3 linked regions of the Homo sapiens genome follow. The protein of the gene in region 3 purifies or fractionates together with the protein of the main gene of each other region. This does not show direct contact. Each region holds a gene or a part of one and is shown on either strand. Other genes may lie near its edges. The genes, in order: IMPA2, RFC4 and FSCN1.

Region 1 (9,910 bases), on a different chromosome or scaffold from region 3:
CCTCTGGAGTACCTGGGGTTACAGGCGCCTGCCACCATGCCTGGCTAAGTTTTGCATTTTTATAGACACAGGATTTCACCATGTTGGCCAGGCTGGTCTCGAACTGCTGACCTCGTGATCCACAAGGCTCAGTCTCCCAAAGTGCTGGGATAACAGGCATGAGCCACCTCACCGGCCGAGATAAGATCAGATTTCAAGGTAACCTGGGGAAGCTGGAGAAGTGGATGGAAGAAAAGAACACTACCTGACATTTTGTTTATTTAGACTCTGCTTTCTTCCATAAAGAACATGAGGGGAGGGAACTCCCAGATTAATAAGGACATAAAGTCTGTCCTGACTGTCCTTTCACCTTCTCACTGCCACTGCCCTGGCTTCTTGGGCCCTGACCCAGGCACTGTGCATGTGGCCTTCTGGTGACCAGAGCCTCACCAGAAGGACTGTGCCCTAGGGTGGGGGGTGGGGAGGGGTAGTTAAGATACAGTTTTTCAAGGCAGAGTGCAGTACGCTAGGGGCTTAAGGAAAGTTCATGTGGCTTCCAGGGCCTCTGAAGGAGACAGTGTGCAGACTGTGGTGGAGGCCAGCTGGGGAAGAATATTTTACATCTCCACAGAGAGTCATCATTGACGCATGAGTGATACGCATTATTCATTAGAAAAAGCTGATTTCTGCCGGGTGTGGTGGCTGACTTCTGTAATCCTAGCACTCTCGGAGGCCAAGGCGGGGTGGGGAGGGGGTGGGGATCTTTTGAGCCCAGGAGTTCGAGACCAGCCTGAGTAACAAGGATGACACCCCATCTCTTCCAAAAAAAAAATGAAAATTAGCTGGGTAATTTAGGAGTCTTCCTAAGGATATAATAAATATATGTCTTTTTTCTTAGGCAGCAGATGGTGGCCAGCTGTTCTCTTATTACTGATGACCAAACATGAAGAAAAAAAATTGTAGTAAGGGGGCTTATAATAAATATAAGACAGAACTTAATAAACTAAATCTGGATTTTTATACACACAAAGGAAAATGGGCGGCTCTGGAAAATTATCAAATTATCCAAGCCAAAATAGCTTCTCCATTATCTATGTAACAAAACATTATTTATGTGGATTGAATTGTACAAATAATTGTCTAATATTTTGGGTCTCTGAGTAGACAATCTGGGTGGTCAATGATACAGATTGAGGGCCCTTCAAGGAATATTTTAGAATGGGAAAAGCGTTGATGCTCTTTGCCATTTGACTGGGGGCATTTCTACTGAGATGCAGGTGATATTGATCACATTTGTAGATACACGATTCTTTGACCAGGATTTGGGCCCGTTACAGTAAAATCGTAACAATTTTTGCTTAATGTTTGAAATCAACTTTTAATTGCAAAAATAATGCACTCTTTCCTCTAAATTTTCTTTTCTTTCTTCTTTTTTTTTTTCCGAGAAGGAGTCTCGCTCAGTCACCCAGGCTGCAGTGCAGTGGCGCAATCTCGGCTCACTGCAAGCTCAGCCTCCGGGGTTCACGCCATTCTCCTGCCTCAGCCTCCCGAGTAGCTGGGACTACAGGCGCCCTCCACCACGCCCAGCTAATTTTTTGTATTTTTAGTAGAGACGGGGTTTCACTGTGTTAGCCAGGATGGTCCTGATCTCCTGACCTCGGGATCCGCCCGCCTCGGCCTCCCAAAGTGCGGGGATTACAGGCTTGAGCCACCGCGCCCGGCCACTTTCCTCTACATTTTCTTTTCTTTCTTTCTTTCTTTTTTTTTTTTTTTTTTTTTTTTTTGATACGTAGTCTCGCTCTGTAGCCCAGGCTGGAGTGCAGTGGCGCAATCTCGGCTCACTGCAAGCTCTGCCTCCCGGGTTCACGCCATTCTCCTGAGTCAGCCTCCCCACAGCTGGGGACTACAGGCACACGCTGCCACGCCCGGCTAATTTTTGTATTTTTAGTAGAGACGGGGTTTCACAGTGTTAGCCAGGATGGTCTCGATCTCCTGACCTTGTGATCCGCCCACCTCGGCCTCCCAAAGTGCTGGGATTACAGGCGTGAACCACCGCGCCCGGCCATTTTTTTGTATTTTTAGTACAGACAGGGTTTCACCATGTTAGCCAGGATGGTCTCCATCTCCTGACGTCGTGATCCGCCTACCTTTGTCTCCTAAAGTGTTGGGATTACAGGCGTGAGCCACCGCGCTTGGCCTATTTTTATTTTTTGAGATAGAGTCTTGCTCGTGTCACCCAGGCTGGAGTGCAGTGGTGCAATCTTGGCTCACTGCTACCTTGGCCTCCAGGGTTCAAGCAATTCTCCTGCCTCAGACTCCTGAGCAGCTGGGACTACAGGCACATGCCACGATGCCTGCCTAATTTTGTTTATTTTTGGTAGAGGATAGGTTTCACCATGTTGCCCAGGCTGGTCTTGAACTCCTGACCTCAGATGATCCTCCTACCTCGGCCTCCCAAAGTTCTGGGATTACAGGCGTGAGCCACCACACCTGGCCGAACAGATATTTATTAAACACCTATTGGGTGCCAAGCGGTATGCTGATTGCTTGAGGCTACCCACACTGGTGCATAAATGACCAGTCTTTAATAATAATAGCAAACACATACGTTCCAAGCACAAGTACATTAACCCATACAATGGTTACAAAGACCACTTTACAGTTGAAGAAACAGGCAAAACCGGTTATTTTTAACTTGCTCAAATCCACACAGTAAGGAAGAAGAGAGGCCAATATTTTAATTTAGGAAACCTGGCTGCTTCAAAGCCTCATGCTGTTAAAAACCACACTACGCTGCCTTAAGATATGTCATTTGGGAAAGAAAGTTAACTCTTTTTCCAGTTGTTTAGATAAGCTGGGATCTATCATGAAAGTTTATCTAAAGATATAACTGAGCTTCCAGATGGGGTGACAGTACCAGGAGCACAGGCAGAGGTGTTCAGAAAGGAGAACTGGGAAGAGGCGGAAGAGACATTTTGCCACTTCTTTGTTTGCTTGGTGTTGGAAGTGACCGCTAATGAAAACCTGTCATGAAAATCAACAAGAGAATGCATTTCTTTTAAAGTAACGCATTCACAGCACAATCTTAAGTGCATTCTGAAGTCCTGCTGTCTTTTTTTTTTTTTTTTTTTTTTTGCGACGGAGTCTCACTCTGTCGCCAGGCTGGAGCGCAGTGGCGCCATCTCGGCTCACTGCAACCTCAGCCTCCCAGGTTCAAGGGATTCTCCTGTCTCAGCCTCCCGAGTAGCTGGGATTACAGACACCTGCCATCACGCCCAACTAATTTTTGTATTTTTAGTAGAGACGGGGTTTCACCTTGTTGGTCAGGCTGGTCTCGATCTCTTGACCTCGTGATCCGCCCGCCTCGGCATCCCAAAGTGCTGGGATTACAGGCGTGAGCCACCGCACCCGGCCTCTGTCTTAAACATCATAAAAACATAAGAACCCAAAAAAGATGGAGGGGAGTGCGCCCTTAGCTGCCCCAAACTGGCGTGGTGGGAGGCAGGGCAATTGGTCTAGTTTTCTGAGCCGTAGGATTAGGGCTCTGGGTGAGGCCAGAGTCCCTAAAGTTGTACCCATATCTGCGTGTTTGTATTTCCTGTTTGTAATTCCTCCTGTTTGTACTTTTTGTCTCTTATACGGTACACTTAAAGTTTCTCCACAAGGTGTTTCAGCATAAAGTACTCAAAAACTAAAAACGTTTAATTTCATTATTAGGTTAAGTGTGTAAAAAATGCCCCATCAAGGTTCTTGTACAAACTCCCATTATTCTCCCAGACTCCGAAGTGGCACTCCAGAATAATTTTACGTGGGTTAGCATCTTTTATAAAACGGGCAGGCAGAGCGGCTTATGAAATTAACCTTGGAAACCACGCGGCCACTCTTTCGGGAAATGCCTCCTATTTATGTTTACATGGGCCAGCAAGAGAATCCAAGGTTGGAAAGGTCATTCCTCACTACAGAGGCTCATCGCAATCACAGTTCCGTCTCCAAATTCGAGTTTTGGGTGTGAAGAGTTTATAAAGTCCAGCCGCTGTCCTCGCAGTGTTTGGGGTTAGCGGAGGGAGAGCTTGTTTGCGACCAAACTTGCCGCGCGGGGCGGCCGCTTGCAGGAACACTGCGGCCTTGTGCGCTCGGCGGTCTGAGCTCCTGCGAGGCCGAGAACGACGCCTAGCGCCCAGCGGCCTCCGCGAACAAAAAGCGACCGGTCGGAAGGTGCTGGCCCAGCCGCCCCTGGCGCTCGAGCCCGAATCCGGCCACAGACCATGAAGGGACGCCCGGCACCACGTGCGCGGGGATCCGCGGACGGGACGCTCCCCGGCACCTCCGGGGCTGGGCCGGCACCGCACGGTCCCACCCAGACAGTAGCTGCCCCGGGCCCCCAAAACAGCCGCTCCTAGCTCCTCCCTCCCAGCTCTGCGGTGGCCCAAGCCGCCCTCCGCGCGCTTGACCCAGAACAGTACGGAGTTCTGCACGAGCCGGGGGTGGGGCCTGTCTCAGCGCGCGGCGGTGGGGCGGGGCTTGGACACGGGCCCGGCTCAACTTGAGGGAGGCGGGGCTCGAGGCTCAGAGGAGTTGGAGCCCGCTCTGCGCGCTGCGGGACGGGGCACGGCGGAGCAGGGTTGGGTCCGCCTCGAGCGGGGAGGGTGATGCTGCACCACAGGGGCGGGGCTGGAGGTAAAGCGCGGAGCGGAGAGGGACCAGGCTCGGCACTGATTTGTGTTCAGGGCTAGCCCAGAGGGGCGGGGCCAGGTACGGGGCGCAGCCGGGAGCGGGAGGGGCGGTGCAGGACGGGGCCGGGCACGGCGCGGGAAGAGGCCAGGAGCAGCAACGGGTGCGGGGCGGGGCCGGGAGCGTCAAGGGGCGGGGAAGAGGGGGGAATGGGCGGGGCCGAGCTCTGCGAGGGGCGAGGTGGGGAATGCAGAGCGGGGCCGGACGCGGGAGCAGGGAGCTGGGCGGGGAGCGGGGCGGGGAGCTGGGCTGGGCTCGGCACGGGGCGGGGCGGAGGGTGGGGAGCGGAAAGCAGGACGCACGGCTCCCGCGGCCCGCTGGCTGCCCTTCCCGCCAGCGCAGGTGTGGGACGGGCGGCGGACTAGGCACAGAGCTGCGGGAGCAGGCACAGGGAGTGTGGAGCCTGGCGGCGGGACGGCGGGATCCGGTGGGAGCCGGAGTCCCGCCGAGGGGGGCTGGAGGTGGAGGGGCCCGGCGAGGCCGCGATGAAGCCGAGCGGCGAGGACCAGGCGGCGCTGGCGGCCGGCCCCTGGGAGGAGTGCTTCCAGGCGGCCGTGCAGCTGGCGCTGCGGGCAGGACAGGTGAGCGCCACGGCTGGGCTCGGAAGTCCGGGCGGAGCAGAAGCGCGTGGGCCTTGGGAGCCGCCTGGAGTGGCGGGGTCCTGGCGCGCAGCCGGCGGGCGCCCAGGGTCCGCACCCGAGGGCGCGGGGCGCGGAGCGGTGAAAGGAGCCTTTGTGCTGGTGTCCTGGACACACCTCCCGCGCCCTTCTCCAACTCCCGGAGCCCTGGCGGCGAGCCCCTCTGCTTTGGAGTTCAGCGGCTAACGTGACCTTTGCGTTTGAGTGAGTGGTCAGAATGTAGAAATCTCTCCAGGGGTAGCGTACGGGGCTGTTGATTTTTAAGGACCTATGAACGGATTCAGCTCGCGGTAGGAAGCCCGGGGCTAAGCCCCAGCCGCGTGGGGATCTGGCTGGGCTGCCGTTTGATTGTCCTGGCTGCAGCATCCTCAACCCAAACTTACTCTGACCCACACCCTGAAAGTGGCTCAGCTCCGCGACGGCCACGGACTCAGAGTTCAGGAGGAACTTGTTACACTGCCCGGAAGGATGAAAACCGAGCCGCAGAGCTACCGAAAACCAGCGAGCAGAGTTTAAAATGGAGTGCAGTTCCTCTCTTCTCTTTTTCATTTTTGTGATTGTTCCTTCCACTTTCCTCAGTACCTTTAGCAGTGCCTGACACACCGACGGTAGTGGTAGGCAAGCGAGTGTTGGTTCTCCCAGGACTGTAAGATGGCTTACTCCATGTTTGTCTCTTAGGATGTGATTGTGGGCCGGGCGCAGTGGCTCACGCCTGTAATCCCAGCACTTTGGGAGGCCGAGGCGGGTGGACCACTTGAGGTCAGGAGTTCGAGACCAGCCTGACCAACATGGTGAAACCCCGTCTCTACTGAAAATACAAAATTAGCTGGGCATGGTGGCGCGTGCCTTAGTTCCAGCTATTTGGGAGGCTGAGGCAGGAGAATCACTTGAACCTGGGAGGCGAAGGTTGCAGTGAGCTGAGATCGCGCCATTGCACACCAGCCTGGGCAACAAGAACAAAACTCCGTCTCAAAAAAAAAAAAAAAAAGTGATTGTTTTCGGGGATTTTAGAGACAGGAGGTGTGCTGAGAGCAGATTGGCCTTTTATATTCAAACATTTGTTTTCTTTTTTGAGGTCTGACAGTCCGAAAATGCTCTACCAGTTTCCCTAGATGTTGAAATCGGACTGTTATCAATCTTAAATTTGAAGTGAGTCGTCATAAAGTGGATAGTGCTTTACCTTGGTGCAAATCCTCTAATCCTGTTTAAAAATTAATCTGCAATACTAAGTAGACTCATTTTTTGTTGAAGGGCCTTCCTTCCCTTTGTAGTTTGAAGAACCCAAGCCTCAGACCGTAAAGAATGAATGAATTTAAGAGTGTTGCGAAACTCCACCCTTTGACCTTTCCCTCCTGTAGGAAAAGGAGGACCCTAAACCTTCCTGCAAGGCAGATGAAGCTTGTAGCTTCAGTGCAAGCGTTCTTCCTGGAAAGCAGAGCTGCTGTGTGCATGGAACACGGGTTCTCCTTCCATCCTTCCCTGCCTCCCAGCTTTCCTTCCAGAGCAAGCATCAGCCAGATATTTAGGAACTTTTAGGTTCTACTGTAAAACTTTTCTTCCTTGAGGCAGTGAAAAGCCAGCTTAGGATTCAGACATTGCTGTGTAAACCCTGGCGAGCTAAGTTAGGAGTTTCTGTGGTTTTCAAATTTAGATCCTTGAAGAAACAGAAGATTTTAAAATTTTATGTTATTATTTAACAAATGTGCATAAAGAGCTTGCAATAGAGCAGGAACAGTTCTAAGGCTCCTATGACTTTTAACTTAAGAGATATTTTATGTTTTTGCAACTTGCCAGCAACAAAAAAAGCTTTTTTTAAACGCTGGAGAGGGTTGCAATAAAGATGCTGCCATTAGGAGTCCGGTCAGGAAGCCCGGGCCGCCCGGGGCTCCCCCTCAGGCATTATGCTGATGCTTCCTGCCTGCCGGGCAGTGCTGAGGGAATGGCCTGAAGGTCTGCTGCTGGGACAAACAGAAGCCACACGAGGTCATCGGAACCTGTGTAAAGAGGGACAGATTGTCTTCTAATGCAATCGGGGGCTGACTGGAGAAAACATATCCTTTAGCCAGATGACCTGGTTCGGGGTGTAAAGGTCGTGAGTGGTGATCCTTTTGGAGTTCTCCTTAGTGAAGAGCATGTTGGCAAAGTCGCAGGGCCCCCAGATGCTCACCCTTCACTAGCACCCAGCATTCTACCACTCTGTTGTTCGCTGCTCTCAGCTGCCCCTGAGATGGAGTCTGTGTTCTAGATGCGGAAAGGTGAGGGAGCCGAAGGAGAGACCTTCCAAGAGATAAAGGTGCACTGTCCTTTCTCTCTTAGACTGGTTCCGCTCAAGGTGGCCCTGGAGAAACTGCTTCCATTTCCCCTCTGCCCCAGTTCTGGCAGGCTTCCCTGTCCCAGGCTCCCAATTCCCTCACCTGCCCCCTCCATGCTTCTGTGCCACTCTTCCTTCCGTGACCGTGGGGATCATCCCTGCCCTCCTAGTTCCAGCCACCCACACTGTGACGGGAGCCTCCTCCCTGGCTGTTGGGCTTTTGGGGAGGGAGTGACCACAGCCCCACCCCAAGTACAGATGACAGTATTCACTGATGTGGATGGTTGTCATCTTTTGTGTGATGTGTGAACAGAAGTATTGTAGACAGCTCTGCCTTTCAAATCCCCCCGCGGAGCTGAACCAGCTTCTGTTGGGCCAGAAACTTAGACAATTTAGGGGGCCCTCTTTAAGAAAATACAAACTTTGCCAGATGTGGTGGCTGAAGCCTGTAATCCCAGCACTTTGGGAGGCTGAGGCTTGTGGATCACCTGAGGTCGGGAATTTGAGACCAATATAGTGAAACCCCATCTCTACTAAAAATACAAAAACTGTGGCCGGGCGCGGTGGCTCACGCCTGTAATCCCAGCACTTTGGGAGGCCGAGGTGGGCAGATCACAAGGTCAGGAGATCAAGACCATCCTGGCTAACACGGTGAAACCTCGTCTCTACTAAAAAATACAAAAAATTAGCCGGGCGTGGTGGCGGGCGCCTGTAGTCCCAGCTACTCAGGAGGCTGAGGCAGGAGAATGGCGTGAACCCGGGAGGCGGAGTTTGCAGTGAGTAGAGATCGTGCCACTGCACTCCAGCCTGAGCGACAGAGCAAGACTCCGTCTCAAAAAAAAAAAAAAAAAACAACAAAAATCAGTCGAGCGTGGTGGCACACGCCTGTAATCCCTGCTACTAAGGAGGCTGAGGCAGGAGAATCCCTAGAACCTGGGATGTGGAGGATGCAGTGGTGAGCCTAGGTTGCACCACTGCACTCCAGCCTGGGTGATAAGAGCGAAACTCTGTCTCAAAAAAAAAAAAAAAAAAAAAAGAGAAAATACAAAATTACAAATTCAAACTTAGATATAAAAGTTATTTAGAATAAGAACAATCACATCTATAAATTTCTAAGGTGCTAAGAAATACTGCAAATATCACGAAATACACAAAAATAACAATTCTTTCACTGCTTCTCATACTTCCGTAATACTTTTTGCCCTTTTTCTGGTTTCATACTGTTTGCATCTTTTGAATGATAATGATTTTGTAATACTTTATATGGGGAGAATAGAAAGATAAATTCAGCATTTCCTGTTGCTTGGCTTATTGAAATTTATTACTGATAATTTAGAAAATTTAGGCTTCAAACTTGTTACTGGTAACAATTGGCTTATAAATTTTTAGGATGTCATCAAATTGAGAACCTTCTATGAATTTTTTTATACATTAGTTGTAAGTGAGTCTGTTTTTCACAGACTTGCTCCTGGCTCTGTGCAGTTGAAATCTGGTTTATTTTTGTGATCCACACATTTTCAGTGCCAGTGTCTGTGTCCACCTCATGTGCTCCTCTGGTCCTGTATGTTTTTGTCACCATGCCAGGTGGGTCGGCGTGATGGACAGGGGAGTATGCCTGGAAGCCCTTTCTACACTGGATGGCTCTCAGTAACTTACAGAGAAATGTGACTGCAAACCCTATTGAAGCAAAGTTAGTTCATCTACTCAGCTTATCTTTAGCCCACACTGGCTGTATCCACGCCAGTGCCACCTGATGCAAAGTCTGATGGAAGGACAGTTTAAGTGGAAAGGCACAAGGTTAGATCTACAGTCAAAACAGCTGACTTTTGCCCATTACAAAAGGGGTTTGTGTACGGCTTTGTGAACACTTTGTTAGGGTCCCTTGCAGGCAAGTGGGGGCCTTGATGCTTAAGCGTCATTAGCTTCACAGGAAATTCATCTCTGTTTACTTGTAACAAAATCTCAGGACAAAGCAGAAAAAGAAAAACCCAGCACTGACCTCAGGACCGCAGACTTCCCCCTTCTCTAGTTGGCCTTGCACACCCTTGCAGGTTATGCTTCCCGAGGCCCGGCCTTGCGAAGTGAGCCTGTCGTCCCCTTGTCCGGCCAGATCTGGTCGCTCTGCTTGGTGTTTGCAAAACACATGTTGTATTTTCTTGCCTTTCTTCTGGCCTATGGAGTATGCAAACCATTGCCTGTCTCCAGAGCCCGGCTCCTGAGCCCCTTCCTTCATGGACCGCTTCTCAGGTGG
Region 2 (9,919 bases), on a different chromosome or scaffold from region 3:
TGGTGCAAGCAGAGCACCTTTAATTGCCGAAGAGTCCATTTCAGGGTCTGAGCTAGAGCTAGGCCCATGACTGTGAAAGAAACCATGGAGGCCCATGTGGTTTGGTCATTAGCAACATCATATTTATCAATGCATTTGGAACTCATTAAACATTTTTGTGACATATGATCTTTGTTCTATAACTCCTGCACTAGAAATAGATTCTAAGTTCGTTAGGGACTTTGACCACTTTTCTGTTCTTGTAGCCCTCAGTACAGTGCATTCAGAGTGTCCTAGGTCATGGGGTGATGTCCTTTATTATGTAACATCTTTGCACAAGGCTAAGTTTATTTTCGGGCTGTACTTTCTCATAATGGTTCCCCACCACCACCCCCGCTTTCCTATGGTGCTGATTCGCAATAAAAGTTTCAATAAAAGCTTTTTTTTTCTGTCTTGCACCTGACCAGGGTGAAGTACCATGCAAGCATTTCTTAAAGGTACATCCATCAGTACTAAACCCCCGCTGACCAAGGATCGAGGAGTAGCTGCCAGTGCGGGAAGTAGCGGAGAGAACAAGAAAGCCAAACCCGTTCCCTGGGTGGAAAAATAGTAAGAACACTTGTGTCTTTGTTAAAATAATTCATAAATTATCTCTCTAACCAGTACTGATCACTTTTTTTTTTTTTTAACTTATGGAGGAATGCTTTGTTCTGTTTAGAAGTTGTCTTTGAAAAAAAATCACCCACTTATATAAGTCATAGAACCCTGGAACTAAAGTTACCTGAGAATAATCTAGTTTAACTCCCTTATTTTGTAGATAAACTGAGATCTCTACAAGCAGAGGCTTCCATTTTAGGGGCTGGGATACAGAAGTGAAGAAAACAAAAGTTTCTGTAAACTGGCTATAAATACTAGGTCAGGAGTTCTACTTAAATCCAAATATGTAATCTGTTCCTCCTTCTTCTCATTACAATAGGTGGAAAGTATTATTATTATTATTACTATTTTTGAGACGGAGTCTCACTCTGTTGCCCAGGCTGGCGTGCAGTGGCATGGTCTCGACTCACTGCAACCTCCACCTCCTGGGTTCAGGTGATTATCCTGCCTCAGCCTCCCAAATAGTAGGGATTACAGGTGCCCACCACCACACCTGGCTAATTTTTTGTATTTTTAGTAGAGACGGGGTTTCACCATGTTGGTCAGGTCGATCGCAAACTCCTGACCTCAAGTGATCCACCTGCCTTGGCTTCCCAAAGTGCTGGGATTACATGCATGAGCCACCGCGCCCAGCCCTGGAAATTCAGTTTTGGTTAGCTCATACATTTTTGTCCAAACAACACTTGAATTAGCATTTAAATTGTCAGTCACCACCTGGCATGGTGGCTCATGCCTATAATCCTGTATGTAATCCCAGCAATTTGGGAGGCCAAGGTGGGAGGATCACTTGAGGCCAGGAGTTCCAGACCAGCCTGGCCAACATGTCGAAACCCCCTCTTTACTGGGAAAAAAAAAAAAAAAAAATTAGCCAGGCATGTTGGCGGGCACCTGTAATCCCAGCTACTTGGGAGGCTGAGGCACGAGAATCACTTGAACCTGGGAGGCAGAAATTGCAGTGAGCTGAGATCACACCACTGCATTCCAGCCTGGGTGACAGAACGAGACTCTGTCTCAAATAAATAAATAAAATTGTCAGTCATCTAAGTGATATTACCACAAGTAATTGTAACTATTGGTTGAATGTAGCCTCGGTAATTACCAATGTTTACAGATTACTTATAGGCCGAGTAAGGCCCTCATATGTTTTTTGTGTTTTTGTTTTTTGCTTGCCTTTTTGTTTGTTTGTTTTTTTGGGACAGATTCTCACTTTGTCACCCAGGCTGGAGTGCAGTGGCGCAATGTCAGCTCACTGCAACCTCTGCCTCCCAGGTTCAAGTGATTCTCCTGCCTCAGCCTCCCGAGTAGCTGGGATTACAGACATGCCCCACCACACTCAGCTAATTTTTGTATTTTTAATAGAGACAAGGTTTCATCGTGTTGACCAGGCTGGTCTTCAACTCCTGATCTCAGGTGATCTGCCTGCCTTGGCCTCCCAAAGTGCTGGGATTACAGGCGTGAGTCACTGCGCCCAGCCCCTTATATGTTTTGTTTGGCACCAATAAACCTCATGAAAATCTAGATTTTTTTAATTATGTGGAGGAGGGTCTGGATTTTCAGCTTCTCAGGAGATCAGGCAACACTGGGGGCAGGTTCTCACATGACAGGAGTTATATGGACTTGTGTACTGCTTCTCCTTTTGGAAAGGTCGTGTGTTCCTCAATTTGCCATGGTCCCTACTATATCTTGCATCACACTCTGCCTTCCTCACTCTTGTTATCTGCTTAATCTCTGCAGGTATTTGAATATGAGTCCCTGCTTTATAACATATACTGGATTCCCAAGAGAAGACATTAAAAAAAAAAATCATAATTCCTACCTAGTGTTAACCTGATTTATCGAAAAGTATGGATCAAAGAACTTTTGATTAGTTAACTAAGCACAAAGCCTAAGCTTAGAGTTGGAAGTGTAACTTTGTTCTAGCTTCTCTTAAAAATCACTGTTGTAAGATGAAAATTATATATGATACTTCATATTGGTTCAGCTTGTTGTTTTTGTTAGCCCTCAATGAATTGAATAGGTCTTCATTTTTTTATGCAGTTAGATGATGGAAAAAATTGGCATTAACCAGTTAACACATACTAAGTATATATGTAACTACATTAACCAAAATAGTTACCTATACTAAGGTTACTAAATGGTTTTCCCTTTTCATCTTAAGATTCATGATCTTATTTTGTCAAAGTGGAACAATGCTTTTTTTTTTTCTTTTGAGACAGAGTCTTGCTCTGTCGCCCAGGCTGAAGTGCAGTGGTGCGATCTTGGCTCACTGCAACTTCTGCCTCCTGGGTTCAAATGGGACTACAGGCATGTGCCACCACGCCCACCTAATTTTTTTTGTATTTTTAATACAGACGGGGTTTCACCATGTTGACCAGGCTGGTCTCAAACTCCTGATCTCAGGTGATCTGCCTCCCAAAGTGCTGGGATTACAGGCGTGAGCCACCGCATCCGGCCAATAATAATGCTTTCTAAGCAGGTGTTCACTTTAATTTTTTTTTTTTTTTTTTTTTTGAGATAAAGTTTCGCTCTTGTGACCCAGGTTGGAGTGCAATGATACGATCTCGGCTCACCACAACCTCTGCCTCCAGGGTTCAAGCGCTTCTCCTTCCTCAGCCTCCCGAGTAGCTGGCATTACAGGCATGCACCACCATGCCCGGCTAATTTTATATTTTTAGTAGAGACAGTGTTTCTCCGTGTTGGTCAGGCTGGTCTTGAACTCCTGACCTCAGGTGATCCACCTGCTTCAGCCTCCCTAAGTGTTGGGATTAGTGTGAGCCATCGCACCCAGCCCCACTTTAATTTCTTTTTTTTTTTTTTTTTTTTTGAGACAGAGTCTCCCTCTGTCACCCAGGCTGGAGTGCAGTGGTGCGATCTCAGCTCACTGCAAGCTCTGCCTCCCAGGTTCGTGCCGTTCTCCTGCCTCAGCCTCCCAAGTAGCTGGGACTACAGGCGCTCACCACCACGCCTGGCTAATTTTTTGTGTTTTTAGTAGAGACGGGGTTTCACTGTGTTAGCCAGGATGGTCTTAATCCCCCACTTTAATTTCTAATTAGTGTTTGTAGCATATAAAATAAAATCCTTTTTCTTTAATTTTTGTGGGTATAACAGATTCGAGCAATGCAGAAAGGAAGTAAAACATTATTTCACTCTTTCAGAATGTGTTTGGTTACGGTAAAAACAAGTGGGGTTTCCACCTATTTCCGATTATGAAAAAGTTTCTCATTTCATTGCTGATGTTTAAGAATGGTCATTGGTATTTTAGTAGAAGGAACACTTGAGAGTTTTCTGTGGCTACTATAATATACTAAATAACCTCTTTCCTCCTTCTCACCCCGCAAGTCGCCCAAAATGTGTGGATGAAGTTGCTTTCCAGGAAGAAGTGGTTGCAGTGCTGAAAAAATCTTTAGAAGGAGCAGATGTGAGTTGCAAATGGTGTTTAATGTCATTGGGATATTTAAGACTTAATTTATTCACCCTCTTTCTTCCTTTATAACTTCTAGCCCTCGTTAAATATCTTGCTCTGTGTACAGTAGGTCCTTGATAACTATTTGTACAATGATAATTAGTTCAAATATTTATTGAGCATCTCCTATTTAATCTTACATAGCAGTGTTACCTAGTATTCAAGTAAAAGTCATAGTAATTAAGACAAACTATGAAACATAGACATAGAACAAGACATAAAACATAGAACAAGACAAACTATGCCCCTTTTTTCATGGGTTTTTATTGGTAAGGAAAGATAGAATAAACAAGTAAACCAATAAATAATTATAGGTAGTAATATGTGCTATAAAGAAGAGCCAGAGATTCCTCTAAAGTATAATTGCTTACTAACTTTAGGATTTGGATTGACCTATAATACAAAAAAAAAATCGAGCTTTGAATTCTGCTTATAGCTCTCTCTTCTGCTGTGATCTGGGGGATAAAGTATCCATGGATAACTTGCATTGTAAATTATTCTGAGATAAGATAAACCCATGTGAAAAATTAGCAACTTAAAGTTGTGTTATGATGAATGCCCAAAGTGCTTTAACAGCTCAGTAAAGTGCTGAAGTGGGATGTGGTTTTTGCTTTAGTTTCAAGATTTGCTTCCTTCCTCTCAATCTGGCTGCTTTTAATTAGAAGTTCTTTTGGGTTTTGCTGCCATCATTCCCTTGCTGAAATTATATTACTACAGTACACATTTTGAAAGAAGTTAAATTTATAAAACTATTTAGAATCTTTTTCTTTACCAGTATGTGTTTTGATTTGACTCGCATACTCTTATACCTTTTTGGCCGGCCACAGTGGCTCACGCCTGTAATCCTAGCGTTTCGGGAGGCTGAGATGGGAAGATCACTTGAGGTCAGGAGTTCAAGACCAGCCTGGCCAACATGGTGAAACCCCATCTCTACCAAAAATTAGAAAAAGTAGCCAGGCGTGGTGGCACACACCTGTAGTCCCAGCTACTCAGGAGGCTAAAGCGGGAGAATCATTTGAACCTGGGAGGCGGAGGGGTTGCAGTGAGCCAAGATTGTGCCACTGTACTCCAGCCTGGGTGACAGAGTGAGACTCTGGTCTCAAAAATAAATAAATAAATAAGTAATAAAAAATAAATAACACAAATACTCTTATACCTTTTAATTTTATAATAGTATAGCATTTTATTTTTTGGTATATTCTGCTTGCATATCTTGGTAACAGTATATACCATTTTAATTGCAGTTGCATAGTAATTACACAGATTGCAGGACAATATCTAATTTAATTACTAGTATCTTCAGCAAATGTAGTGAGATTAAGATCCAGTTCTTTTGTTTTTTTGTTTTTTTTTGTAATTGAGACAGAGTCTTGCTCTGTCACGCAGGCTGGAGTGCAGTGGCGTGATACCAGCTCACTGCAACCTCCGCCTCCCAGGCTCAAGTGATCCTCCCACCTCAGCCTCCCAAGTAGCTGGGACTACAGGCATGCACCACCACACACAGCTCATTTTTGTATTTTTAGTAGAGATGGTGTTTAGCCATGTCAAGTGACCTGCCCGCTTTGGCCACCTAAAATGCTGGGATTACAGGCATGAGCCATCATGCCCAGCCTAAGATCTAGTTCTTGACTTTATGCCACGTAATTTATGAGGCTGAAGTAAGAACTTCAGTTTAATATTTTGTGCACCTTTTCAGACTAAGTTTTGTAAAGAGGTGAAATAGTTTTTTTAATTCAAAAGAGTAAAGGAAAACAATTCATTCAATTTATTTTGAAAGGTTTTAAAGAATTATAAGAAGATAATTTTTTCAGAAATTGATTTTAAGAACTGGTATTCCACATACAGTTCTTGAATGTACTACATATATTAGACTAGTGTATAATTAAGGTTTAATAATTTTACCCTGTTTCAAAGAATTTAAATTATTGTATCTGATAGTTAACCTGGATGAATCGTTACATTGTTAAGGGATGCACAGATCAAAATAATAGTTGTAGACCTTAATTACTAAGAAGCCTGGGAGGTTTTTAAGTTATGAATCTCATAGTTTGTTCTGTAAGCTATATGTTATGAATGTAACAGTAATAGTCTTCTAATTAACATATTTGTCTATGTATTGGTTTATTCATTCATTTGGCCAACATTGACTACTGTAGTAGATGCTAGAATACAGATGTGAATAGAACAAATAAGGTTCTTGGTCTTTTAATGAAGTAGACAGGCATTTTACAATTAAGCCCCACAGTGAAATAACAATAAACCAATGCAAAATGCAACAAACACTAATGAGAGAATAGGAGAGGAGACCTACTTTAGACTGAATGGTTTCTGATTTGTAATGCATTAGGAGTTGGCCAGGCAGAAAGAAGAGGATCAGACTCCAGGTCATGGGAGCAACATATGTTCGGGCCAGAAAGTGCCAAGCTGTTAGAAGCCATTGTAAGCTAGAGCCTGGAAGGTGAAGGAGGTGGTAGGCAGATCATGGAAGTCCTTTAGGCCATGGTAAAAAGCTGAGGGTTTTTTGGTTTGTTTTTGTTTTTCTAAGTGGAATAGTTTTAAGTAGCAAGCAGAGTGGTATCTGATTTAGGTGAAGAATGAATGGACAGGAAGAGGGAGGGTTAGGCAAGAGTGGAAACAAACTCTAATGCCTAGTTTCCTGTGTACACTGATTTCCTTATGTGACAGGACATACTGAAGATTGCACAGTATCATAACAGAGCTCATTAGAATTTAGTTGACTTATTAATTTTCACCACGGATCAGTCGACTGCTTGATAGGAGCCAAACTAGCTAGATACAAGGTATAAAAGAAGGTAGCTAGTGATTTAATTTTATCCTTTCCTCTTCTAATGAATTCTCCCTGATACATGCAAGCATCCTTACAGAGTGCATAATCATGATGTGGAGCAGTGCCTAGTACTTAATATATATCTAGTTTTGGATTTTTTGTTAATATTTCTGTTCTTGGTACTTCTGCTCATCCAAAGCCCTAATTATGTCTTTTTTAGTCCTTTTTCCTCAGTTTTGGCCAAATCCCATTACTCTTTTGGTCTGCTTCCCCTTTGAAGCAGCTGACATTTTGTGTAATATAAAATCTTACCTAATCTTGAGCATAGAGGTGGGATAGGAAACTGAGATTCCCTTTAGAAATAAAAGGTTTCTCATTCCAGCTTTGAAAATTTCACCTAAGTGGATTAGCTATAGAGCAAGCATAAATATTGGTTCAGCTTAAGAGATTAAAAAGACACTTGGGGAAAAAAGTGGTAGTATATGAAAAAGCAGGATTTAAATCTGTCAGTACTATGATATCAGTTATATTAAGAAAACTTTATACTTAGAAATTACGTGCCCTATTAGAGAAGTCATTGCACTATTCCACAGACATTTTTTTCGATCTTCCTTTTCATCTATTTGTGCCAGAATACCATTTATTAAAAATAAAATTTAATTTCTACAGCTTCCTAATCTCTTGTTTTACGGACCACCTGGAACTGGAAAAACATCCACTATTTTGGCAGCAGCTAGAGAACTCTTTGGGTACGTTGAAATCAGTCTGTTTTTCTTTTTTTAAAGATTTGACACCAAAATTCTCTGATATTGCTTTTTTTCCTCTAAAAATTTGCGTTTCGTTTTCTGTAGGATAGTTTTCTATTTCTGATTTTTAAAAATCCCATGAGCCATTTTGTTCCTCCCTCACTCCCCTGAAGAAATCAGCTTGCCTGCGTCTTTTGTGACCTTCATTGTGAATCTTGTTCAAGTGTGGGGAGCCTATGATTTTTTCCATCACTTTCTTTAAATTTTCCATTATAACTTTGGAGTCCAGAGGGCCCAACTTAATGTCCAGTTGTGCTGATAGTTTTATCACCCTCTTAATGATTGTGTTCACATCTGTGTGGCTACATGATAGAATCTGCTGTTTCTGATGGCACTATTTGCACCATCCATTCTTGAGTCCTGCTCTGGACTTCCTAGGCTCTGACTCTGGAGTGGCCAGTCCAGCTCCTTGCCTCAGGTCTCCTGAGCACAAGTGATGGTTGATGTAGTGTGATTCCAGGTACACCAGAAAATCTTCCTGTGAGTCACCTTCTTATGTTCCTCTTCCTAGATTGACCATCTTGGCTTAACCAGCCATTCTAGAGGAGCCCTTTACCTAGAGTTAAAAGATGTGTAGTGGGCTGGGTCTGATATACATGAAACATGCACCAACATAACAAAGGCTGTTTTGAGTTTATCCAGAATTAATATCAGACATACAACTGATAGAAATATCTGAAATCCTACATATGAAAATAGGCTGGGTGTGGTGGCTCACATCTGTAATCCCAGCACTTTGGGAGGCCGAGGCAGGTGGATCACCTGGGGTGAGGAGTTCGAAACCAGCCTGGCCAACATGGTGAAACCCCATCTCTACTAAAAATACAAAAATTTGCCAGGCATGGTGGCATGCACCTGTAGTCCCAGCTACTCGGCAGGCTGAGGCAGGAGAATCACTTGAACCTGGGAGGCAGAGGTTGCAGTGAGCCGAGATCACGCCACTGCACTCCAGCCTGGGTGACAGAGCGAGACTCCGTCTCAAAAAAAAAAAGACGCCACTGAAATCACCAAATGTGTAAGGATTATTAGTTATGTCAAAATGTAAAAGACAAAGGGAGAAGCTGCTATGTGCCTAATATTTTATTTGACAGCAATTTTTTATTCTCAGTAAAATTATAGAAGAACTTTTTTGATTATTCCACAACTCAATCAGATAGAACCAATCTGAATCAGCCTTAACAGTTGTTTATTATTACTTAGAGTAGGTCAGTCCAGATTATACAACTTTTTCTATATCCTTTATGAAATAATGTTTGTCTTTAAAGAACTTACTTTAACAGTGAATTTCATATTTAATATTGTGGCTTTAAAATAGAAAATAGATGCATGTAAATGTTTATGTCCATAAACATGCTTAGGATACCATGCTGATTAGGAAAAATAGAGATGAAACTAAATCACAACTCTTGTTTTTTATTTAAATGTGTGTGTGTGTGTGTGTGTGTGTGTGTAAAAGACTAGAGGGAAGTTTCAAAAACAGTGCTTTGACAGTGTGCCCACTTTTTTCTTTTGATTTCTCAAATTTCTCTACAGTAAGCATATATTACTTTTAGTAATTTTTATTAAAACTCACTTTAAAAACCTGCTCATGTTTTAATCCATTAATTTTCCTTAATCCAGTAGGTTTCCTTATAGCAAACTACCCTGTGGAATTTATTTATTTATTTGTTTATTTATTTATTTTTGAGACAGTGTCTCGCTCTATTGCCCAGGCTGGAGTGCAGTGGTGCGATCTCGGCTCACTGCAACCTCCACATCCCGGGTTCAAGCAATCCTCCTGCCTCAGCCTCCTGAGTAGCTGGCACTACAGGTGCCTGTAACCACGCCCAGCTAATTTTTGTATTTTTAGTAGAGACAGGGTTTCACCACGTTGGTCAGGCTGGTCTCGAACTCCTGACCTCGTGATCCACCCGCCTCGGCCTCCCAAAGTGCTGGGATTACAGGCATGAGCCACCACATCCGGCCGGAAATAATTTAAAATGTGCTATATTATAACATTATTTAAAATTACAGTATTTAAAACTATCTAGATGTCTAACAATAGAAGAATGTGAAGTAAATGATGGTACAGTCATAGGATGGAATATCATATGACTATTAAAATGTTATTTACAGTGGTTTTGATAATATGCCAAGATACTTATTATAAATGCAAAGTGGAAAATCGATTTAAAATTTTATATGTGGGGCCAGGTGTGGTGCCTCACACCTGTAATCCCAACATTT
Region 3 (9,919 bases):
AGCCGGGAGACCCCAGGCCAGCTCCCTCGGGAAGCCCCTACCCTCTGGTGAACCCATCCCCTAGGGCGCTCGCCGGGAACAATTGACTGCAACTCGATCCGTCCCCTCCGGGGCCTCCTGCAGGCACGGCTATTTGCGACCGGCCTGTGCGCCACTCTTTCCCTTCTTTCTCAGATTCTCCCCGAGGGGCTTTCTCTTCCTTTTGGCGTCCTCTTCCACTCCTGGCGGAGAAGCTGTTCCTTGCTTGCAGACAGAGGCCCCGCTGGAGGGAGGGGCGTGGGGGGATCTTTTTCCCTGGATAGGAAGTCGGACCCCAGGCCTTGGAGATGGCTGGACGGGAGCCCAGTTTGTGTCCTCATCCCTCCTCTTGGAAGGAGCCCTCCTGACGGCCCCCCTCTTGGCTGTGGGCTCTGCAGGAGGGGGAAAGACCCCCCATGGCAGTGGGGGTGAGGGTGGAGGCCTGGGTGGGGTAATGGCCATTTTGTGCCTGAAGTTTGCTACCTTAAGTCCCAGAGAGGTGAAGCTGCTTGTCATGGGTCACACAGCAAGTGACCACAAGGAAGCAGCATGCAGAAGTGGGTGCATTTGGCTCCAGAAACCCCGTTTCCTGTTTCCCACAGCGCATGGCGGGCAGAGCTCCTCACCTGATCAGCAGGCATTGAGCCCTACTAAGGGGACCTGCTGAGCCATGAGTGAACCAGTGGGGTTCACGTTCTCTTGGGGACATTACGAAGTGTCAAGGAAAAGGCAGCGGGTACAGGTTATTAGATGGCTGAGTCCTTTCTGAGCAGGACATTTGAGCTGGCCTGAAGGATGAATAGAAGGTGGCAGGTATGGGGGGGGTGCTGTGTGGACCAGCGTTGTAGGCTGTGGGTGTCTCCTGTGCAAAGGTCTTATGGCAGGAAGGTACAGAGAAAGCCCAGTGTGGCTGGGAGGAAGCTTGTGAGGTCTGGGCCACGGGACCTTGGGTGAGAGCTTAGTGCAGGGCTATGGTCCTTGCCTTGGGGTTGCAGCCACAGCCTCCCGTGGGGAAGAAGTCGCAGAAGTAGGTGGCCTTGGCCCTGGGGGCCAGGAAGTTGCAGAGAGCCTGAGGGTGTTTTTGGCGAGCCTGGGCAGATAACTCCCCTCTCCTGAGAAGCTTGCTGGGGGCGTCTGGTGTGTGATTCAGGCTGATAGGGTGGGAGGAACCAGAAATTGCAGCCAGGAGAGGTGGTGGTGATGGCTCAGCTTGGAGTTGAAAGGGATGTGGGACGGCGCGGGGGTGGGGGTACTTGGGGGCCGAGGTTGGGGCTCCTCTGGCCTCAGATCTTGGGGTCCTTATCTCGTTTCTATGTCAGCCAACTCCCGGGGGGCTTTTGGGAACTGGAGTCTGCAGGGGTGGGCGTGGGGGGCGTGTCTGCAGAGGCCATTTTGGACGGGCCTGCGTGGCAAGGGGGAGGCGTCTGCTTCCGACACACATGCTGGGGAACGCCAGCCAGGAAGGGGAGGATCCGGACTTAGCTGGCAGGGGGGATGTGAATCATCTCTGCAGGCCTGCACGGGCGGGCCCGGTGGGGGCAGGGTGCTCCCCTTTGAAAAACGCTGCGCCCTGCTCTTCAGCCTCAGTTTCCCCATCTGTAAAGTGTGCATTCCAGGCCTCCTTGGGCTGGCCCAGAGCTGCCCTGGGCAGGGGCTTTCAGCCCTTCACACCAGAGGCTGGGTCAGCTGAGTGAGTGCTCCTTTGTCCTCCCGCCATGCCCCAGGCTCCTCCCTGCTCCCCAGGATCCACACCTACCCTGGCCCCGACCCTGGGCCATGCCTCACCACACTTCCTGTCTTCTCTCACATCTCTCACATCTGGGAGTCCTCTCCCGCCAGCCTGTGCTTGCATCTGGGGATCCATGCCAGGGATAGGACCTGTCCTCCCTGCTGGCTTGGGACATGCCCTCTCCCAGCCACTCTGAGGAGGGCTGACTGAGGAAGGGCTCGTCAAGCTGGGCTTTGCAGGATGTGTAAGAGTTCTCCCCACGAGGCGCAGGGCATTCTGAGCCCAGGGAATGGCTTGTATAAGGATGCAGAGGCATTTGAAATGGCCAAGTAGTTGCAGGAATCGACTGGAAACCGGGGTGGTAAGGTGAAGCCATAGAACATTCCAGGCCCCCTCCCCTAAATGAGATGGAAGGAGTGCCTGTTTTGAACAAGCCAGGGGCATCTGGGGACCGTTAAGGCCTGGGGGTGGTGATGGGGACTGGAGGGTGTGAGGCAACCAGGGGGTGCCCCTCTGAGCCACCACAGACAGAATGGTTCAGAAGGCCAGGCACACTGGCTCTCGCCTGTAATCCAAGCACTTTGGGAGGCCAAGGAGGGAAGATGGCTTCGGCCAAGGAGGGAAGATGGCTTCAGCCCAGGAGTTCAAGGCCAGCCTGGAAAACATGGCAAAACCTCTGTCTACAAAAAATACAAAAAATTAGCCAGGCATGGTGATGCACGCCTGTCGTCCCAGCTACTCAGGAGGCTTAGATGGGAGGATCACTTGAGCCGGGGAGTTTGAGGCTGCAGTGAGCCGAGATCGTGCCACTGCACTCCAGCCTGGGCAACAGAACGAGACCCTGTCTTAAAAAAATTTTTTTTGGCCTGGTGCGGTGGCTCACGCCTGTAATGCCAGCACTTTGGGAGTCCAAGGTGGGTGGATCACCTGGAGGTCGGGAGTTTGAGACCAGTCTGACCAACATGGAGAAACCCCATCTCTACTAAAAACACAAAAATTAGCCGGGCGTGGTGGCGCATGCCTGTAATCCCAGCTACTCTGGAGGCTGAGGCAGGAGAATCCCTTGAACCCGGGAGGCGGAAGTTGCAGTGAGCCGAGATCGCACCATTGCACTCCAGCCTGGGCAACAAGAGTGAAACTCCATCTCAAAAAACAAAACAAAACAAAAAAAACAACCAAAACAAACAAACAAAAAACTGTAATTAAAATAATTAAAAGAAAAAAGTTAAAAAAAAAAAAAAGAGAGGATGGCTCAAAGGCTGGAAACAGGGAAGGCCACTGTGAGGGGAGGACAGGCAGGGCTAGACCTCTCTGGAAGGAGGAGGGAGAGGTACCCGTGGGCCCGGCACAGGAGACTCTTAATCTCCTGGCTCCCGGGGGCTTCTGTGGGCCTGTGACTCAGGATTTCTGTGCCTCTGTTGATGAAAAGAAAAATCCTGAAGAAAACACTGTTCCCATAGTAACACAGCTCTAATTAGAGACTCCAAGGCCAAGCGAGGGCCTTGGAGCCAGGAGGGGCCCTGCTCTACTGGGGGGACGACACCCCTTTCCCCTATCCCTCCCTGCTGGGGTGTGGCCTGATGTCTACGTGGCACCAGGCCCCTAAATCCTTTCAACATCCTGGCGGAGCGGAGAGGCTGGGCCCTTTTGACAGGTGGGGAAACTGAGGAAGGTTGCAGGGAAGGCACTCATCCAAGGGTGCCTGGCCCCCCGCGGTGGGTGCCTCACTGGCTGGCCTAAACCTTTGCATCAAACCAGTTCCAGGATTGAACGCAACAGGCTGATGGGGACTGAGTCGTGGTACAGATGGCGGCAGTTGTGTGGCCCTGGGCCCAGGAATGGCTGGGAAGCTCCCTTTCTTCTCTGGCTTGGGGGATGAGGTTAGTGTAAATTTCATGGAGTTGCCAGGAGGATTAAGGCCGACGTGCATTCACACGTGGCCCCGTGGCTGCCGCCAGTTAAGCCCTGCGCAGCCATTGGAAGTCTCATTGAGAAGGAGCCTCCCGGCTTCCTGCATTTGTTCCAGGCGGGCTGGTAAGCGCCCTGCTTATTTGCAAGGCTGTGTGAGGACGAGCCCTGTAAACCCTAGGACGAGGCTGTGCTAATGTGGTTTCTGTTCCACTGTCTCCCCTTCTCCTTTTGCCCCTCTTTCTGGGGAACCTGGAGCCCCTGATGCCCTCTGTTTTTTCCTGCTGCTGGGGTGGACCTAGAACCTCTCCCTCCATCCTTTCTGCTGCTGGGGTGGGCCTGCAGGAGGCTGTCCTCTTACCTGGTCCCTAACTTCCCTCCGATCAGCGGGGCTTCAGCGGAGCCCCAGCGCATTGGACAGGTGGTGCTCTGTGGCCGGCACAGGCCAGGGCCCAGGGTGCGGCCCCTGCCTGTAGGTAGACATGCAGGCCCTTCTGAGCAGAATGAGGGGGCGGTGAGGGCAGCTGTGCGGGTGTGGCTGGCCTGACGGCTCCCTGCAGCCCTGCGGCTTCTGTGCAGTGGGGGTGGGGCGGGCCAGACCTTTGCAGGGCCTCTTGGCTGGTGGAGGGCTGAGTGAGCAGAGGCCCCAGCCCTCGTGTTCCCTGGGGTGTGGCCTTAGGATGGTCCCGGCACCCTGGGACCCAGCCCCTGCTCACCTTATCCTCCTCCCGTGCTTGGCTGGGGTGTGGTGGCTGAGCCAGCCCACCCAGTGCGGTGGATGCTCGTCGGAGGGCAGAGGGTGGGCTACCGGCTTAAGGGGCCCCAGGGAACCTGGGGGGTGGAGCCCAAGGGGTTCCAAGAAGGGGCGGGGCCAGGAACCCATAGACAAGAGGGTGGGGCAGGGAAAGGGCGTGGCAAGAGGGCCACCCACCTCCGGTCCAGAGAGCCAGCCAGACCCTTACTTTCTCTTGCTGTGTGACCTTAGGCAAGGACATGCCACCACCGGCCTTAGTCTCCCTCTTTGTGAAGTAGGATGAAGATCCCCACCTGTGGAGCAGATGTGGGGCTGCATGGTTGGGTCAGGATGGAACAGGATGGGGAGGCCGGGCGTGGTGGCTTACCCCTGTAATCCCAGCACTTTGGGAGGCAAAGGTGGGAGGACTGCTTGAGTCCTGGAGTTTGGGCAACATAGCGAGACCACCCCCATCTCTACAAAATAATGTTAAAGTTAGCCAGGTGTAGTGGTGAGTGCCTGTGGTCCCACCTACTGGGGAGACTGAGGCAAGAGGATCCTTTGAGCCCAGGAGGTGGAGGCTGTAGAGAGCCATGCTTGGGCCACTTGCACTCCAGCCTGGGCAACAGAGCAAGACCCTATCTCTAAAAAAAAAATGGAATTGAGGATGTGTCCTCTGGGTGTGGGCTCTACCACCCACCAGCCTCCCTCTCCTGTGGGTGCTGCCTGCCACCCACCGCTGAGGTCCCTGCAGCATCAAGGTGCCCAAACGAAGACACTCTCCAGCTCTGAGCCAGGCACCCATACAGAGCCCGGCAGACGCCTCTGCTGCTGCAGTTCTTAGAATCCAGAGCGCGTGGGGAATGTGAATTTGTGCTGCTGGAGCCAAACATCCCACCTCCAGGTTTTAGCTGGAGGAATCCATGTGGATATGCAAAGCAATGTAGTTATAATGAATAGCAATTGTGGGCTGGGCGCAGTGGCTCATACCTGTAATCCCAGCACTTTGGGAGGCTGAGGTGGGTGGATCACCTGAGGTCAGGAGTTTGAGACCGGCCTGGCCAACATAATGAAACTCCGTCTCTACTAAAAATACAAAAAAATTAGCCGGGCATAGTGGCGGGTGCCTGTAATCCCAGCTACTCAGGAGGCTGAGGCAGGAGAATCACTTGAACCCAGGAGGCAGAGGTTTCAGTGAGGCGAGATCGTGCCATTGCACTCCAGCCCGGGAGACACAGCGAGACTCTCTTTCTCAAAAAAAGAATAGCAGCTTTGCTATAGCTTAGGGGAGCAAAACCCGAAAGCCACCTTAAGTTTCCCGAAGATAGAGATCCCTGGGGTCCTATTCTGAGACAGAGTCTTGCTCTGTCGCCCAGGCTGGAGTGCAGTGGCGGATCTCAGCTCACTGCAGCCTCCGCCTCCTGGGTTCAAGCAATTCTCCTGCGTCAGCCTCCCGAGCAGCTGGGATTACAGGCGCCCGGCACCACCCCCAGCTAATTTTTTTTTTTTTGAGACAGAGTCTCGCATTGTCGCCCAGGCTGGAGTGCAGTGGCGCGATCTTGGCTCACTGCAAGCTCCACCTCCCGGGTTCACGCCATTCTCCTGCCTCAGCCTCCCGAGTAGCAGGGACTACAGGCGCCCGCCACCGTGCCCGGCTAATTTTTTTTTTTTGTATTATTAATAGAGACGGGTTTCACCGTGTTAGGATGATCTCGATCTCCTGACCTCGTGATCCGCCTGCCTCGGCCTCCCAAAGTGCTGGGATTACAGGCATGAGCCACCTTGCCTGGTCCTTTTTTTTGTATTTTTAGTAGAGATGAGGTTTCACCATGTTGGCCAGGCTGGTCTCAAACTCCTGACCTCATGATCCGCCCGCCTCGGCCTCCCAAAGTGCTGGGATTACAGGTGTGGGCCACTGTGCCCGGCCAGTCCCATTCTACTTTTTAGGGACATGGAATCATGTAAAGATGCCATACAGAAAACAGTATGCAAATCCAGAGACAGAGGACATCTGTGCATGTTTCTTTCTTTCTTCCTTTTTTTTTTTTTTTTTTTTTTTGAGATGGATTCTTGCTCTGTCGCCCAGGCTGGAGTGCAGTGGTGCAATCTCAGCTCACTGCAACCTCTGCCTCCCAGGTTCAAGTGATTCTCCTGCCTCAGACTTCCAAGTAGCTGGGATTACAGGCATGCCCCACCATGCCCAGCTAATTTTTGTATTTTTAGTAGAGGCGGGGTTTCACCATGTTGGCAAGGCTGGTCTTGAACTCATGACCTCAGGTGATCCACCCGCCTCAGCTTCCCAAAGTGCTGGGATTACAGGCGTGAGCCGCCGTGGCAACCCGCATGCTTCTTATGTATAAGAAAAAAACAGCTAGAAAGTTGTGGGTTCACTGGCTGGGCACATGGTGGCTTGTGTCTGTAACCTCAGCACTTTGGGAGGCTGAGTTAGGAGGATCATGTGAGGCCGGGAGTTCAAGACCATCCTAGGCAACATAGCCAGACCCTGTCTGTACCAAATAGAAAAAAAAATTAACTTGATGTGGTGGTGTGTGCCTGTAGTCTCAGCTATTTGGGAGGCTGAGGTGGGAGGATCACTTGAGCCCAGGAAGTCGAGGCTACAGTGAGCTATGATTGTGCCACTGCACTCCAACCTGGGCAACAGAGCAAGACCCTGAATCAAAAAGAAAGAGATGTATTTGCCAACACAGGGGTGTTCTGCAGTGGGGTGGGAAGGGGACGTGTAGGACTTCATAGTTTCCTTTTTTTTGTTTTAGAGACAGGGCTTAAAAAAAAATTTTTTTTTTTTTTTTGAGGCGGAATTTCATTCTTGTTGCCCAGGCTGGAGTGATCTCGGCTCACTGCCATCTCCGCCTCCCAGGTTGAAGTGATTCTCCTGCCTCAGCCTCAGGCAATTTTGTATTTTTAGTAGAGACGGGGTGACTCCATGTTGGTCAGGCTGGTCTCAAACTCCCGACCTCGGGTGATCTGCCTGCCTTGGCCTCCCAAACTGCTGGGATTACAGGTGTGAGCCACTGTGCCTGGCCCCTTTTTTTTTTTTTTAAGTAGGGTCTTGCTAAGTTGTCCAGGCTGGTCTTGAACTCCTGGTCTCAAATGATCCTCCTGACTTGGCCTCCCAAAAGGCTGGGATTGCAGGAGATATGAGCCACCGCACCCGGCCCTTTTATAAGTTTTCTAAAGGAAAGGAACATGTACCATCGTGTTTTATTTTAATTTTTACATAGAAGCAGGAACAATAGCATGAACCCCCAGACACGGCCCCCCAAGATGCGCTGTTCCGCTGTGCTGCAGCCCCATTTGTCCTTTTCTATACCATTTTTGGTTGTATTTGAAGCAAATCCCTGACATCAGGGCATTTCATCCCAAAATACTTCCATCTGTGTTTCTAAAAAAACGAGGCCATTTTCTTATGTAACCACAACGTGATCAACAGTAATCAATGCTTAACATCTAATTCTGGGCCACGTTAAGACCCTCCTGATTGGCTCAAGAATGTCTTTTGTGCAGTTGGTTTCTTGATTCTTTTTGTTTTTTTTGAGACAGGGTCTCACTGTGTCACCCAGGCTGGAGTGCAGTGGTGCAATCACGGCTCACTGCAGCCTCAGCCTCCTGCCTCAGCGATCCTCCTGCCTCAGCCTCCCAAGTAGCTGGGACCACAGGTTTGCACCACCACTCCCAGCTAATTAAAAAAAGTAATTTGTAGAGACGGGGGTGGGGTGGGGGTCTTGCTATGTTGCCCAGGCTGGTCTCAAACTCCTAGACTCAAACAATCCTCCTGCCTTGGCCTCCCAAAGTGTTGCGATCACAGGCATGAGCCCCTGTCCCTGGCCCCTATTATTTCTCTAACTGGGGAAAGTCATGTGGGAACAGATGTAGCTTGCCTTGGCCTCTGACCGGCCCTGCCTGCGTTCCTGGGTGCTCTCTGCTGCTTCTCATGTGTGCCACTGTGGGGACTCGGCCGCCCACCCCACCCCGTGGTGTTACCTTGCGTGTGTAGTTCTGTGAGCTCAGGGCTATGGTCTGCCAGAACTAGGGGGCGTGGGGCCCCAGTACCAGCCCAAGGCCTCCTCTCTGCAGGTATGGACCTGTCTGCCAATCAGGACGAGGAGACCGACCAGGAGACCTTCCAGCTGGAGATCGACCGCGACACCAAAAAGTGTGCCTTCCGTACCCACACGGGCAAGTACTGGACGCTGACGGCCACCGGGGGCGTGCAGTCCACCGCCTCCAGCAAGTGAGTGCCTCGCTCCCACCTGTCACCGCCCCCACCACCTTGCCTGGGCTACCCCGCCTGACCCTGTCCCGCCATCCCCCAGGAATGCCAGCTGCTACTTTGACATCGAGTGGCGTGACCGGCGCATCACACTGAGGGCGTCCAATGGCAAGTTTGTGACCTCCAAGAAGAATGGGCAGCTGGCCGCCTCGGTGGAGACAGCAGGTAACACTAAAGCCCCAGTTCCCTGGAGCCGTCCTGGAGTCCTGGAGGGTCTGGCCATGCCGTGGTCACTTGGTAGCCCCAGCCAAGGCCTGCTCTGTGCTGGGCATCCCCCCGGACTGGCCCCGCACTGTCCTACCCTGGGGACTGCTGTGTGACCCCAGCTCCTGGCCCTCCCTCTCTGGTCACCCCAGCCTCCACCCCACTCCCTGCCAGGAGGCTCACTGACTCCCCTCTTTCTGGGACAGGGGACTCAGAGCTCTTCCTCATGAAGCTCATCAACCGCCCCATCATCGTGTTCCGCGGGGAGCATGGCTTCATCGGCTGCCGCAAGGTCACGGGCACCCTGGACGCCAACCGCTCCAGCTATGACGTCTTCCAGCTGGAGTTCAACGATGGCGCCTACAACATCAAAGGCAGGTTCTCCTGTGGGCAGCTGCTGGGCAGGGAACCCCTCGGTCGGGGCTGGGGTCAGTGCTGCGGGGAGCGCCCTCTGCATCCACACTGGACCCTGGCTTGGCTCAGGGCCATTCCAGGCCCTAAAGGGACAGGTGTCTGATGGCCACCAGGGGCTCTGGGATGCAAGCAGCCCCTTTCCCTCTTGTCTGTGTGGTTGGGGGGACTTACCTTGCCCACCTGACAGAGAGGTGTGTGGAGGGGAGAGCAGGGAGGGGAAGGAGAGCAGGGAAGGGGAGGGAGGAGAGCAGGGGAGGGGAGAGCCGGGAAGGAGAGGAGAGCAGGGGTGGGGAGGTTCTGGAAAGGGTGTGCAGGGGAGGACGCGCCTCGGTTATGGGACTGGAGCCCCTTCCCAGGAGGACCCCCAACAATCCAGAGGTGCCTGTTAGGATTCAGAACATGGTTTTTTTGTTTGTTTTTTTGAGACTCACTCCCTCACCCTGGCTGGACTGCAGTGGCGTTATCTCGGCTCACTGCAACCTCTGCCTCCTGGGTTCAAGTGATTCTCCTGCCTCAGCCTCCCAAGTAGCTGGGATTACAGGTGTGCACCACCACGCCTGGCTAATTTTTATATTTTTAAAATTTATTATTTATTTATTTTGAGACCCAGTCTGGAGTGCAG

The links.
Region 1: the proteins of FSCN1 (region 3) and IMPA2 purify together in Homo sapiens (affinity purification with mass spectrometry; 2 studies listed by BioGRID, with this or other methods). This does not show direct contact.
Region 2: the proteins of FSCN1 (region 3) and RFC4 purify together in Homo sapiens (affinity purification with mass spectrometry; 2 studies listed by BioGRID and IntAct, with this or other methods). This does not show direct contact.

Annotation. Positions count from the first base shown.
Region 1 is NC_000018.10:11,976,475-11,986,384, forward strand, and holds the start of IMPA2 (inositol monophosphatase 2), read left to right. Parts: upstream 1-5,032; 5' UTR 5,033-5,195; coding exon 5,196-5,291; intron 5,292-9,910. UniProt on the Homo sapiens protein: Phosphatase that can use myo-inositol monophosphates, myo-inositol 1,4-diphosphate, scyllo-inositol-1,4-diphosphate, glucose-1-phosphate, beta-glycerophosphate and 2'-AMP as substrates in vitro.
Region 2 is NC_000003.12:186,795,252-186,805,170, reverse strand, and holds part of RFC4 (replication factor C subunit 4), read left to right. Parts: intron 1-446; 5' UTR 447-457; coding exon 458-588; intron 589-3,975; coding exon 3,976-4,054; intron 4,055-7,556; coding exon 7,557-7,636; intron 7,637-9,919. UniProt on the Homo sapiens protein: Subunit of the replication factor C (RFC) complex which acts during elongation of primed DNA templates by DNA polymerases delta and epsilon, and is necessary for ATP-dependent loading of proliferating cell nuclear antigen (PCNA) onto primed DNA.
Region 3 is NC_000007.14:5,594,774-5,604,692, forward strand, and holds part of FSCN1 (fascin), read left to right. Parts: intron 1-8,483; coding exon 8,484-8,640; intron 8,641-8,722; coding exon 8,723-8,844; intron 8,845-9,089; coding exon 9,090-9,257; intron 9,258-9,919. UniProt on the Homo sapiens protein: Actin-binding protein that contains 2 major actin binding sites. Organizes filamentous actin into parallel bundles. Plays a role in the organization of actin filament bundles and the formation of microspikes, membrane ruffles, and stress fibers.